Linked DNA regions of Homo sapiens. The protein of the gene in region 1 purifies or fractionates together with the protein of each later gene. This does not show direct contact. Each region holds a gene or a part of one and is shown in the gene's direction. Other genes may lie near its edges.

Evidence for each region.
Region 2: the proteins of TNS1 (region 1) and DMD purify together in Homo sapiens (co-immunoprecipitation; 2 studies listed by BioGRID and IntAct, with this or other methods). This does not show direct contact.

Annotation. Positions count from the first base shown.
Region 1 is NC_000002.12:217,845,985-217,853,018, reverse strand, and holds part of TNS1 (tensin-1), read left to right. Parts: intron 1-2,830; exon of another isoform or gene 2,831-3,158; coding exon of another isoform or gene 3,159-3,342; intron 3,343-3,931; coding exon 3,932-5,509; intron 5,510-7,034.
Region 2 is NC_000023.11:32,361,534-32,368,567, reverse strand, and holds part of DMD (dystrophin), read left to right. Parts: intron 1-3,368; coding exon 3,369-3,548; intron 3,549-3,857; coding exon 3,858-3,986; intron 3,987-5,609; coding exon 5,610-5,780; intron 5,781-7,034. UniProt on the Homo sapiens protein: Anchors the extracellular matrix to the cytoskeleton via F-actin. Ligand for dystroglycan.

The DNA of each region.
Region 1 (7,034 bases):
CACAGATCCTGCTGCTATGCTGGGGTTTCAGCAGAGTCCTCATCAGGGCTGGACAGGCCTGGGATCAGCCTGGGTATTCTCAAAACCTCCCTTGGATAGGAAGAGGACAACTCAGCAAAGGTGCTGAGTGGCCTGGAGGGTGCAATCTGGGGCCAAGAGACATTTCCATTTGTAGTTAGCGAACAGGAGTTAATTAAACAATTTGCATCTGTTCGATTTTCTTACTATGCCTTAGTGGCTTGGCTATGATTGTTCCTGATGTTGTTGCTGCAAACAGGAGCCCACTTGGGGATAGATTACATGACAGAACAAGTTTAACATTGACATTTTCAAAATCGATGCTGAGTGGGGCTTGGCCACAGGGGCAAGGAAGGGCTGAGATATCAGGTAGTCAATTCTCTCTCCTGCCTGGGGGATGCCTTCATAGTTTTTCTGTTAGTCATGACTGAGATGCTGCAGGGGCCTATGTGCTTTCTGATTTGAATTTGCCCCCATGGCTCTCACTGTGGAACATGTCTAAGTGGGGAAGCCACTGGACACACCAGCCTTTGCTTTGCAGCTCCCCACTTCTCAGACCACATGAGCATGAACGTGGGGGATGAGGAGGCACAAAGGATGGAGGGGATCACTGGCCCAGGAGGGAAATTCTGGCACCTCACAGTGTAGGTGGCAGAGGGGGTGCCCTGGCTCAGGAGGGGGCCTGCAGCTTTCTAGGGACAGTGAGAAGGAAAGCCAGCTCTTCAGATTTCGGCCAACTTGTCCAAGGGGCCCCATCCTCAAGAGAACCACCCCAGAGCTATGAGTGCATCAGAGGCTCCTGTCTTCAGTGCTTTGCCCCCTAGAAACAGGCGGCTGGGGTCTCTTCTTTTTTTTTGAGATGGAGTCTTGCTCTGTCACCCAGGCTGGAGTGCAATGGTGCGATCTCGGCTCACTGCAACCTCTGCCTCCCAGGTTCAAGTGATTCTTCTGCCTCAGCCTCCCGAGTAGCTGGGATTACAGGCATGTGCTACCACGCCTGGCTAATTTTTTGTATTTTTAGTAGAGGTGGGGTTTCACCATTTTGGCCAGGCTGGTCTTCAACTCCTGACCTCAGGTGATCCACCTGCCTCAGCCTCCCAGAGTGCTGGGATTACAGGCATGAGTCACCATGCCAGGCTGAGGTCTCTTCTTTTATGTGTAGCAAGGAGCTCAGTTCTTTGGAGAGAGTGGGCATGAAGGTCAGCCTCCCTCATCCTACAGGGAGAGGACCCCTTTACGATGATAATAGGGGGTTGGAAGAGGCAGCTGTGCCTGGTCCTGCATCTTAGCAGCCTTTAGGGGTCTAGGCACAGGGCCAGGTTGGTGGAGATTCAGAATGTATTTTAGCCAAAACCCCTTTTCAGTTCAGACCAGCCCTGGGCCCTGGGCCCTGGGCTGCTGCAATACTTTGGTCCTGTGTTGTCTGGGGCTGGTGTTGGCTGAGGTCCCAAAGCCTTGGGGAAAACTGGGGGCAGAGGGGTGGATCTGGAGAGGTCAGTAAATGAGGAGGGCATCCAGTCCCTGGGGTGTGTGTGTGTGTGTGTGTGTGTGTGTGTGTGTAGAGGGATGCAAGTGCCTGGTGGAGCATCTTTGTGCCAGTTCTCTGTGTTGTAACATGGCTGGCCTGTGGTCTGTGTGTGTGTATGTTGATTGGGATGTTCCTGTTTTGTGGTTGTCTGATCACTTGTTTTTGGCCATGGGCTTCTGTCAGAGTGTTTATTTTTAGAGGCTGCCACTTCTGGCCTAAGGGCTGATCCTTGGGCATGGTAGGAACATTTGTATTTTCTGAAATATTTGTGGCTTTAAGTATTTATTTGGGGGTATTCCTGCCTGTTATGTGTTTATTCTAATTTGTGTGTATGTGTGTGTGTGTGTGTTTGTGATATGAGGGAGGTGTAGCATAATAAAAATTACATACTGTTTGAAGGAAATTAGCTCTGATTTTAAATCTTGGCTTTATCAGGTAGCATTGTTGGCACATAAATGGTTTCCCCTCTCAGAGGCTCAGTTTCTCCCTTACTGTGATGGGTGTAATACTGTCTGGCTCGGAGGCGATGGCTAGAGAGGATGTGCGTGTAGAGTGCCTGGCGAAGTGTTGGCGTTTGCGCTGTGCTCACTGCACGGTGGTCACTGTTGTTGGTATTTGTGTGTACATGTTCATGCCGGTGCTGTCTGACTGTGGTTCTTGGCATTGTGTGGCACCTAGTGTGTGCTCATGCCTGGGTGTTTCTGATTTGGGTGATCTCTTACTGTCTTTTTGTCTGGCTCGGTGTGTGACTGCTGGTGTCTGGCTGGAGCTGGTGCAGTCTTTGGGAGCTGGCTTTTTTCCTTGCTAACGGAGAGCCTGGATTAGAGTAAGGGGAGGTGCGTGCGTGCGTGTGTGTGTGTGTGTGTGTGTGTGTGTGTGTGTGTGTGTGTCTGTCGGGGCTGGTGGCTGGGCTGCTGACTGTACAGGGTGTGAAATCACTGAGTTCCTCTGGGCGGGGAAGTTCTTCATTCCTGAGTCAGCCCTTTGGCCCCGAGCCACCCAGCGCTCACTTTTTCCTTCCAGAGAAAGTGTTGCTCAGGGGGGTCCTCAGAGCTGTCTGCAGACAAGAGGACCCTCTCCCCCATGAAGACATCTTGTTTTTGTGTTCACGATCCCTAAGACGCTTCCCCTCCTGCCCTAGTCCCTGAACCCCCTGCATCAGCACCCTATATGCCCCCCATCCTCCAGCATAGGAAAAGCGTGTCCCCTCTGGCACAGGGACTGTTGGCTTGGCTGAGCCCCACCTTGGCCTGTTCTTCAGGGGCCCCCGGGCTGGCTCAGAGCAGTGGGATCAGGATGCTCGTCTTTGCAGACCTGCTGTGATCCTGCCCGGCATACCTTCCCAGGACCCGCGTCCCTTTCCTGGAGTCTTGAGTGGTATGGGCTGAGCTTGCTGGTGGAGGGGTAGGGGTCCATCAGGAGTGGGCAGTGCTGGGGAGGAGCTGGGAGGAGCCTCTGGAAATGTGGCAGTGGGCAGCATGAATGACATTGTATCTCTGAATGGTTCTATCACATCCTTTGCATTGAGCTGGAGACAAATCTAGCTGAGGGCAAGCTTGTCTTAGAGAGTCCCAGCTCTGCCTTCAGCCTCCCTGCCACCACCACCTTGGGCATGGTGGGGCCCTTTGCTGCACCCTACTGCCCTCCTGGGTTCTCCCCCTGCTTCCGTGGGCAAAGGCTATCCTCGGGGCGACTGGCCGTCCATGCTGATACCTCTATGGGCATTCAAGGCAATGGCTACTCTCCTGGCATTCTGCCTCTAATCCAGAGTGGGAACTCCAGACATCGAAGCAGGGGTGAGACTTTTTGAGATGGGGTGGCGGAGGGGACTGAGGATGCTTTGGAAATGGTCATTCAGGAATTAATGATACTCATAATGGTGATGGTTAGGGCTCCCAGCTGTTGAACTCCCATCACGTGCCAGGAACTGGTCTCAGCATGTCATGTGTCAACTCATTTAAACTCAAAGCACAGTGTATTTAATGAATATTGGCAATTTCAGATGGTTCAACCAGATTCTATTATTATCCCCATTTTATGGACCAGGAGGCTGGCTCAGAGAGTTATTCATGCCTCTGGTCAGGAAGCTGGTGAAATGCCAGAGCTAGGCTTGGGACTGGAGCGATTTGCCCCCAGCACTTCCTGCTCAGTGTTGGGCTCCACTGCCCGGCCCTGAAGCTGAGTGTTGGTGAGGCTCTGCCCCAAAGCCTGGGGTAGAGGTCTTTCTGTCAGCTCCCCTTTTCCCCACCTCAGGGTGGTGAGAGGAGGTTTTAGGATGCAGGGCATGGGAGCTCTTAGCTTCTTTCTCTGGCAGAGTGGATGATACCCCTGCCTCCCGCTAATGTCTGTTGTCTGTTGTCTCCCCTCCGGCTCTGTCCCTTGCAGAGGTGGTGGGACACACGCAGGGGCCACTAGATGGGAGCCTGTATGCTAAGGTGAAGAAGAAAGACTCCCTGCACGGCAGCACCGGGGCTGTTAATGCCACACGTCCTACACTGTCGGCCACCCCCAACCACGTGGAACACACGCTTTCTGTGAGCAGCGACTCGGGCAACTCCACAGCCTCCACCAAGACCGACAAGACCGACGAGCCTGTCCCCGGGGCCTCCAGTGCCACTGCTGCCTTGAGTCCCCAGGAGAAGCGGGAGCTGGACCGCCTGCTGAGTGGCTTTGGCTTAGAGCGAGAGAAGCAAGGCGCCATGTACCACACCCAGCACCTCAGGTCCCGCCCAGCAGGGGGCTCGGCTGTGCCCTCCTCTGGACGCCACGTTGTCCCAGCCCAGGTTCATGTCAATGGTGGGGCGTTAGCATCTGAGCGGGAGACAGACATCCTGGACGATGAATTGCCAAACCAGGATGGTCACAGTGCGGGCAGCATGGGCACACTCTCTTCTCTGGACGGGGTCACCAACACCAGTGAGGGGGGCTACCCAGAGGCCCTGTCCCCACTGACCAACGGTCTGGACAAGTCCTACCCCATGGAGCCTATGGTCAATGGAGGAGGCTACCCCTACGAGTCTGCCAGCCGGGCGGGGCCTGCCCATGCTGGCCACACGGCCCCCATGCGGCCCTCCTACTCTGCACAGGAGGGTTTAGCTGGCTACCAGAGGGAGGGGCCCCACCCAGCCTGGCCACAGCCAGTGACCACCTCCCACTATGCCCATGACCCCAGCGGTATGTTCCGCTCTCAATCCTTTTCGGAAGCTGAACCCCAGCTGCCCCCAGCTCCGGTCCGAGGGGGAAGCAGCCGGGAGGCTGTGCAAAGGGGACTGAATTCGTGGCAGCAGCAGCAGCAGCAGCAGCAGCAGCCTCGCCCACCTCCACGCCAGCAGGAAAGAGCCCACTTGGAGAGTCTTGTAGCCAGCAGGCCCAGCCCTCAGCCATTGGCAGAGACCCCCATCCCCAGTCTCCCTGAGTTCCCGCGAGCAGCCTCCCAGCAGGAGATTGAACAGTCCATCGAAACACTCAATATGCTGATGCTGGACCTGGAGCCAGCCTCCGCTGCTGCCCCACTACACAAGTCCCAGAGTGTCCCCGGGGCCTGGCCAGGGGCTTCTCCACTCTCCTCCCAGCCCCTCTCTGGATCCTCCCGTCAGTCCCATCCACTGACCCAGTCCAGATCTGGCTATATCCCCAGTGGGCATTCGTTGGGAACCCCTGAGCCAGCCCCACGGGCCTCTCTGGAGTCTGTCCCTCCTGGCAGGTCTTACTCACCTTATGACTATCAGCCATGTTTGGCTGGGCCTAACCAGGATTTCCATTCAAAGAGCCCAGCCTCTTCCTCCTTGCCTGCCTTCCTTCCGACCACCCACAGCCCTCCAGGGCCTCAGCAACCCCCAGCCTCTCTCCCTGGCCTCACTGCTCAGCCTCTGCTCTCACCAAAGGAAGCGACTTCAGACCCCTCCCGGACTCCAGAGGAGGAGCCATTGAATTTAGAAGGGCTGGTGGCCCACAGGGTAGCAGGTAAGAGGTATTCAGTCCTGACTCCTTCTACCCCTTCCTTATTTGGTCTTGCTGGGGGGAGGTGCAGGTCCAGCCATGACCCCTAAGCAGATGTTGCTTTCACTGGTGGGAGGAGGCTCTCAGGAGCCTATATGCTAGCCAGTTATCCCTTCCTGCATTCATTGTCTGATAGGCACCAAGCCAGACACCAAGTTTCAAAGTTCAATGTCAAGCAATTCCTGCCCTCAAGAAATTTACAGTCTAGTGAGCGGACAGATACACAGACAGATGATTTCATTAGAGAGTAATGTGTACGGTGACAGAGGTGGGACCAAGATCCCAGAGCCTGGGAAAGCAAAGCTTACCACCTAGGGCAGTCAGGGAAAGCTTCCAGGAGGTGGTGACTTTGGGGTTGGAGTACAGACTTTCTAGACACAGAGGAGACTCTGCAATTGCCTGTCGTGCTGTCTGTCCTCAGACTTTAGTTCCTTGGGGGAGACGTGGAGAAGGCTGGAGGGAGGCCTTTGTAGACTCAAATTCCCTCTTAGGTCCCGCTCCTAGAGGCCATGAAAGAGTCCGAGAGGGTATCCTCAAGCCCTTAGGCTCTATCTGCTGGGGCGGGGAGGCCAAGGTTCCCCTTCTAAGTCAGTTTTCCTGTTAGTCTTTGCTGAGGACCAGCCCTGTATGGGAAGTAGGTGCTGAGAGACAAAGCTCCTTTTCCTATCAGAGAGTGGGCTTCTCTTTTGGGAGAGAGGAAAGTGGGACACTCAGAAGAGCTTTTGGGGAGACAAAGGCAAGAAATGACAGCATGTCTGGGGCCATGTTGGGAGAGACAGCTGCGAGGTTCCCTTCCCACTGGTCTAAGCCTATGCCCATTCCACAAGGGTGGCTGAACTTGGCAGGAAAACCTGTTGGGTGACTTTATTCTGGAGGTGGAGCCCAGACAGGGGTGGACCAGAGACTGTGGATTTGGGTGGACCTTGTGCCAGCCCCTCAGCTGACAGGGTGGTGGGAGCTCAGCGAGGAGGAGAGGAGCCTGGGCAGCTGTCTCTGTCCTCCACCCCTTTTCCTAAATTTAGGGGAAGCTGAGTCACCATGCCAGCTGCAGGGAGGGAAGGAAACACCCTCCCTGGAGATGGACCGTGGGTTTAGGGAAGCAGCTTGGGGCAGGCCAGCTGGCTCAGGACCTGGTGTGGGGACACAGGCTCCCTGCTCCTATACTTCAGAGCAGAGCAGAGTCCCCAGCTCCACTATTGGTATAATAGCTTGAAATTGGCCATTGCAGGAGTATTTACACCATGGAAATTGGCAATCAGCCTCACCTCCCATAGAGAGCTGGCCTAGCAGTAACAATTCCTTTTACCTGAGCATCGGAACAAAGGATGGGCAGTTCTTAACCTCGGATGAAACGCTCCATGGGTGGTCCATATGGGCTTTGACTTCTGCCTTCTCCCACATCTGGGCCCCTGAGATAAAGATACCCCCCTGGCTTTGTCAGCAGAGATCCTTTTCTTCTTGGTTTTTTTGAGGTGAGAGGGATGGGGCT
Region 2 (7,034 bases), on another chromosome or scaffold:
TTAGAGCCAGAGAAAATGGTTCGTCAACAACCTCATCAAATGTATTCTTTTAGTTTACAGTAAGAATTCCCTGTTCCTCTATGGCAGCCTTGTATTCTAACTTTCATACCTTCTCGTTGCTTCGTACTTTGTCTTTAGTCAATCCAAACCATCCCATGCACACTCCGCCTTCAAGTGTCACCTTTCCCTTGTAGTCATTCATGCTTATTCCAGCCATGGCTCATCTGTTTCCAAAAAAAAATGTGATTTTTTTCTAGTATGATATCAAATTGTTTTATTGCATTTAAGCTTTCCTCTGCAGCTACACTGTAGGCATGATTAGAGTGAGGTTTGCAAAGATTACCTCATTCCTCATCTCTGGCAGTGAATAGCACAGTACAGACTGGATATTAGGCACCTGATATACATTGGTCAATTAGTATTTCAGATCTCCAGAAAGCAAGCTCAGCATAGTATTTAAAGGCTAAGTCTTATTTAAGTCTTATTTCTTAAGTCATATCTTTGATTAAAAACACATTTGAGGGAAAAATTTAAGGCCTACTAAATTAACACAATATTTTTTCCTAACCCAAAACAGCATGTATACAAATGATTGAATACTGGTTCCTTATTGTTGAATAGCATACATAAAAGTTTAACTCTAGGTCTCTTTTTTTACAGAGTGTAAATTGTCCTGTGAATCACTTTTGACCATTAGCAGTTATAAACCACCATCATATCACTGCTTTTTTCAAATACAAGTTGATAATGGTGATAAATTGAACATCTTTTAGTTTTAATTTATAATTTTGTGGAACTTAAGAAGGCACTAGAAATTAGTCCACATTTCCTATTTTGTTCCCATCAACTGAACATCACTGGACATTGTTTAAATTAGCTGGAGGAATTTGGCCAGATGTTGACACATAATGGTTTCTGTGACCCAGGAACTACCTGCAACATTATCCCCTAAGTTCAAAACTTTTGTGATCTCTTCTGAGTTTTGGAAAATTCCATTGCCTTTAATTGCATTGCTTGTCATGTAAGAAACAAAATCTATGTACACAATAACTTTTTACATTGATGCTAAAATATAGTGTCATCTTTATGAAGACTTATTAAGAGATAATTAGTAATCCAAATATAAATTAAGCTTCAACTTTGTGAAGGGTTACCTTTGTGAATAAATCAACTACAGCGAGATGCCAGTAGACTGGAATATAGAAAGTAGATAATTCTCATTTGCGTATATGTCCATCTCTTTGACAAACTCATACTTGGATATAAGTTTTTGAAGGATGGGGACTTCTCTACCGTTTTATCCCACAGAGCCTAGTAACAATGGCTAACATCTATGGTTGTAGAGGTTGTATACTACAAAAGGTTGAAGTCAAAGTATTAAAAGGAATAAAATCTAGTCTATGTCTACTCTGAAGTTAAGCTCTAAAGGGTCTGTATCTACCCAAATGAGAGACTTCTAATAATCTCCCAGAATATATTGAGGAGAATTACATATGATTCTGCTACAGTAGTAACTGGCATATAATAGGAGCTCAGGCAACACTTACGATTGATAAATGAAGAAATTGCTTTTATGAATTGCTAAGCTCACCTGTGTGCAACAAATAGCACCTACATATGAAGAACCCCATGCATGATAGCTGTCGAGTTCATCTGGCATTAAGTACCTTAATTTCAGGCATGTTTTTATTGAAAAAATGTGACATAAAACCATATCTTAGAATTGAAGAAACAGTGTTTTTGTCTTGCATAAAAATTTTTATACATTGTTTCCTCATTTATTTCTCCTGTTTATCCGATGCCAAAGGCAAAACCAAAACAGAAAGTATGAGAAGTGATTTCGAGTGGACCAGGACCTTATGGCGTGGCAGAAAGACAGCCACAGGACTACTTAGGTATATTATAAAGATAGAAAAGACATGTTGAGAGTGACTCTATGAGGCCAGCCTATACCTAATTTCTTACTCTTGTACTGTAATTTTTTTCTTAAGAAATTAGATGTAGGCTGGCATTACAGAGCTGCTCCTTGTGTGTTTATTAATTGATTATTTGTATCTGGACTTTCTCCACTTTCCTGTTATTGCTGTTTCTCAATGATTTTGTTTTGCTTTGGCTTTCTGTGATTAAGACATCAGCTCCACTCGCAAATAGCTTTTCAACTCGAGTGCCAATCACAGTCTCTGTATCTGTTAACCTTATTGAGAAAGGAGAAAAAGGGTCTGTTGGGCTCTGGCTCAGCTCTCTGTGAATGTCCCACAGCTGGCTAACTAGACAGGCAGGGAAAGAACCAGGCACAGACTCAGTGGAATGCCGAGTGGCCACATTGTCTGTCAGCCGTGCCATGTACCAGGAAAGGGGCTTTATGCAGGGCAGGTAGTAAACCTTTGTACTAAGATCACTTTTTCCATCACTACTCTCTATCTTTTTTCATGTTAAATGTGATTGTTTTCATGTTTTATAAATCACCTCTTAGGAAATAGTGGTATTCTCTTAGGAGATTTTAGTCTAGGGTATGTGGATAGAAATAAGGTCTGTGAACTTGGATTGGGGGAAAACTTTATCTTTATTTGTATTCAATTAAAACCAAAAGTAAGCAGTTTTTTCAGTTAAAATGTGAGCAACAAACTCCAGCAATAGAGATACCCATGACTTTGTCACTAATAGAAATGACAGATACTTTTATAACGTGTTCCAGACATTGTACATACTTAAAAATACCAGTTATGCTCGTCATCACTACATTGAAATTATCCTAAAGACCTGATGCTAGATCTTGTTAATTAACATATTAGGAAATAAAACATGTATTACTACATCACAAATATTTAAAAAATGTGTTGCACATTGTATTTCAGTATAATTGTTTTCATTTAAAATCCTATGTATTTTGTTTTATGCATTTAAAAGCATTATTATGAGAATGGGTTTTTAAGCTTCAACAGATGCCAAAAAGATCCATGGCACTAAAAGGCTAAAAAAATCCCTGCTGCAGAAATACAGTAGCACCATACTGTAGAATTTTCTAAGGGCAGTTTCTTATTTGTGGATGGATTTTCAAATATCTGCCTTTAGCCACTACATGTATAAATTAAATAAATATAAATATATTTAGTTGAACAATATGTATGTTTATTAAATATTTATAATGAAAAATAAGACATGAATTATGCTTATGTACATATATATGTTCATAGTTACCCAACAATGAAGCTTCAGTATATATGGTATGGTTTTCATGATTCATTAATACATAGTTATAGGTTTAAAACCTTGCAGAATCATAGTAACCATACAGAAAGCCGTTTCATAAGCATTAAATCTTAAGACTACAAGACATTACTTGAAGGTCAATGCTCTCCTTTTCACAGGCTACTCAAAAAGAGATTGAGAAACAGAAGGTGCACCTGAAGAGTATCACAGAGGTAGGAGAGGCCTTGAAAACAGTTTTGGGCAAGAAGGAGACGTTGGTGGAAGATAAACTCAGTCTTCTGAATAGTAACTGGATAGCTGTCACCTCCCGAGCAGAAGAGTGGTTAAATCTTTTGTTGGTAAGAGAAAAGGCTAGAAGCTTTTACACCCTTCTCTGTCACGAGAAAAAGATACATAAGTGACCAGTAACAATTCTGTGTTTGAAAATTTCTCAATTCTACGTATATGCTGGCTCTTAATTCAATATCTATAACAATATTTTAATATATTTTTCTTTATATTTACGCAATATTCTATATGAAAATACCACTTAAAACTAATCTCAATGAAACTTTATTGTTGTCTTTTAAACATTTTAGAACATAGGAAAAATTCTTTAAGAATATTGTCTAACCAATAATGCCATGGTATGTCTCTGTACAATTAAGGAATACCAGAAACACATGGAAACTTTTGACCAGAATGTGGACCACATCACAAAGTGGATCATTCAGGCTGACACACTTTTGGATGAATCAGAGAAAAAGAAACCCCAGCAAAAAGAAGACGTGCTTAAGGTAGCAAATAAAATATGAAAAGTAATGTCCAAATTGTACACCAGTTACTTCAATCATCTTTGTCCTAAAAGATACTAAGGACGTCTTAATAAGAGTAAAACAATCCTTTCTTCCTTCCTTTATCTTTCCCTTTTTCCTTCCTTCCCCCTTTGAATGGAAATGAATGATTTTGAAGAGTTCTGTAATCTGACTTTCTGTTCAAATCCATCACTCAGTTAATTATACCCAATGTAAACTCCGTTCAGAAAGATATTCCAAGATTTATTTTGAAATCATATTGCAAATTTCTGCCTTTGTCAATGGTGGTACTACATTCTTGTGTCTAACACAAAGAACAATCTGACACTATCATTCATTTAGCCCATCTGAATGAACACCTGAAATCCAGTCAGCTGATTTTTTTGCCTATGCCATATCCAAATCTTGGTAATTAGTCTTAATGTTGGGCTTATGTAAAGCTGAGGTTTTCATTTTTAACTACATGTAAACTAGGCTTTGGGTTCTTTCTTTTAGTCTCAAAACTGACTGTTAGGATGCCCTGTCTTCTTTTTCAAGGGGAACTTAATCTTTTCTTTAAAAAATGATTCCGATAAAAGGGTATGAGAGGTGTAATACGCAAATATACCTTATAGACACTACATTGTTTCTATTTGATGATGTCTCTTTTCCCAATTAAATAGGTAGAGTTGAATTTTAACAGCTCTCTTTTCAATAAACATTTTTTATTTTGTTTTGCTGCAATGTTTGATAAATTTATTGATTAGTTGTTTACTATTTAAAGAAAACTCAAAAATTATGTTTCTTTCTATGCAATTTATTTTTATGCCTCTGATATTTTCCACAGATTACGATATACCTTTAATGAAAAACTATAAATTCATTCCAGGCTATCCCCAAAACACATTTATGCCATTGTCTGAAGCTTATTTTGATGTGGATCTGTATTGTGCTCTTCATTATCCCTTGATGTATAGTCAGAGATGTCATCTTATGGTGAATTTCCTTCAAGGCTTTTTGAATAATAGGGTCTGAGTTATTTAACTTCAACCTCTGTGACCCGGCAGGTCAGGAAGAACATTCCTCAGTACCTCTGTATGTGACAGAAAATTCGTATGTGTTAGAAAATCACTTTTTTTCTTATGACACTCAATGTAATAAAGAGGAACTTGAAAGTGCTAGGAAGGAATAGAAAAGTGTTCTTCAGCTACCTGACCTCCTGAGCACATACTTAGTTCATTCCACAACTATTAAATTCAGTAACGATATAATAAAATAAGACTAAATAGAATATATTATGATAGTTGCAACAACATAGTTGGGAAAACATCCCTGTCCTTCCTCGGACTAAATAAACATTTTAAATAGACATGCATCAAACTTAAGGACGGTGATCTATTTTTCTGAAATCACACGCATTTTCATTTTAGTCCTGTTTTATGGAAGTTGTGGTTTTATCTCCCTTTGTATTTTCTGCATGTGCTTGCTCTCATTTTCTTACTTTCTCTCTCTCTCTTTCTCACTCTTCTCGCTCACTTGCTCACTCGCTCTGTTTGGCTCTCTTTTTCTATCTTGACCTTCATTAATTACTAACTTCAAGTCCTATCTCTTGCTCATGGAATATAGCGTTTAAAGGCAGAACTGAATGACATACGCCCAAAGGTGGACTCTACACGTGACCAAGCAGCAAACTTGATGGCAAACCGCGGTGACCACTGCAGGAAATTAGTAGAGCCCCAAATCTCAGAGCTCAACCATCGATTTGCAGCCATTTCACACAGAATTAAGACTGGAAAGGTAGGAAGATCTACTCCAAGGTGGAAACTTGTGCTAAATGGTCTCTTGCGAAGGTTGCGCAGTACTCTGAAAGGGGCAAGTAGACCCCACAGCAAGGTTTTCAAAAGGAAAATGAATGCCAAAATGTATTTAAGGAAATTTTACCACTGATTATAATGGGAGATAAACGCCACTCCTCCCCGTCTCTGTCTCTCTCTGTCTCTCTCTGTCTCTTTTTCTCTCTCATCTTTTGCTGCCATAGATATTCTAGGACTGCATTCTATGCTGCAGTTTACATACGTACTTTCAGGGGTCACCTACAGAAAAAAATAACAAATAGCATGCTGAAGGCCAAAAAAATAAATAAAACCAAAAGCACACAAGTCATCCATCAACATAAAGCACTACCGATAAATTTTGCCAAAAGCAGTACTGATACAATATTGCTTGTATGTAATGTGGATCAAATATCCAAAATGAGGTCTTGTACATCTTCTGCACGGTCTAGGGTGTTTTTTTACCTCTTTACTGGTTGTGCAAGTGTGTTTGTTTAACTTGCTTTTGCTAGTTGTAGACACTGTGACAAAATTCATTAGGCTATAATGAAATGATCACGCCATGAAAACAAATCATTGCAAAGCTTACATATCCTAATTTTTGTAATTTTATATGCCTATTTATATTACTGTTTAAGAAGAACCAGGGAATATGGAACTTTTGCGTGATAGACTTTATATTTGTGTATGATTTGATGAAGAGAAAGTCTTATTTAATAAGTAGTTTGCAAAAATGTATAAATATAGTGTTATAGAATTTCAGCTCTTTGGGAAGATTTGAAATGCAAGTAATTACCTAGAAATTTATATACTGTAGTTTGATAAATTTCAATATATATGATATGCTTTCAAACATAAAAATGTATATAAAATCAATATATGTATTTAGGTATATAGATAATTGTTAGAAATAATCTGAAATGAAAAAAACATTGGAGTATTTATGAGAAAATATGATGCAGTATGTCAGGTAAGTATTGATTCCTGGAAAAATAGAACATTTTCAAAAAATATTTTGATAGATATAAGCAACCAGTAATAGCATGGTTTCACAATTGCTGCACTTTCTAAGGCATTACAGTGTCTCATCATGTTATATAATAGTACATATTTAAAGTAGTTTTCAAAATAAGTGAAATGTGACATGATAAATTCTAAATAGTTTAGCTTGTATGCATGAGACACAGTTACCCTTCAAAATTCACCTTCCCAAATTAAA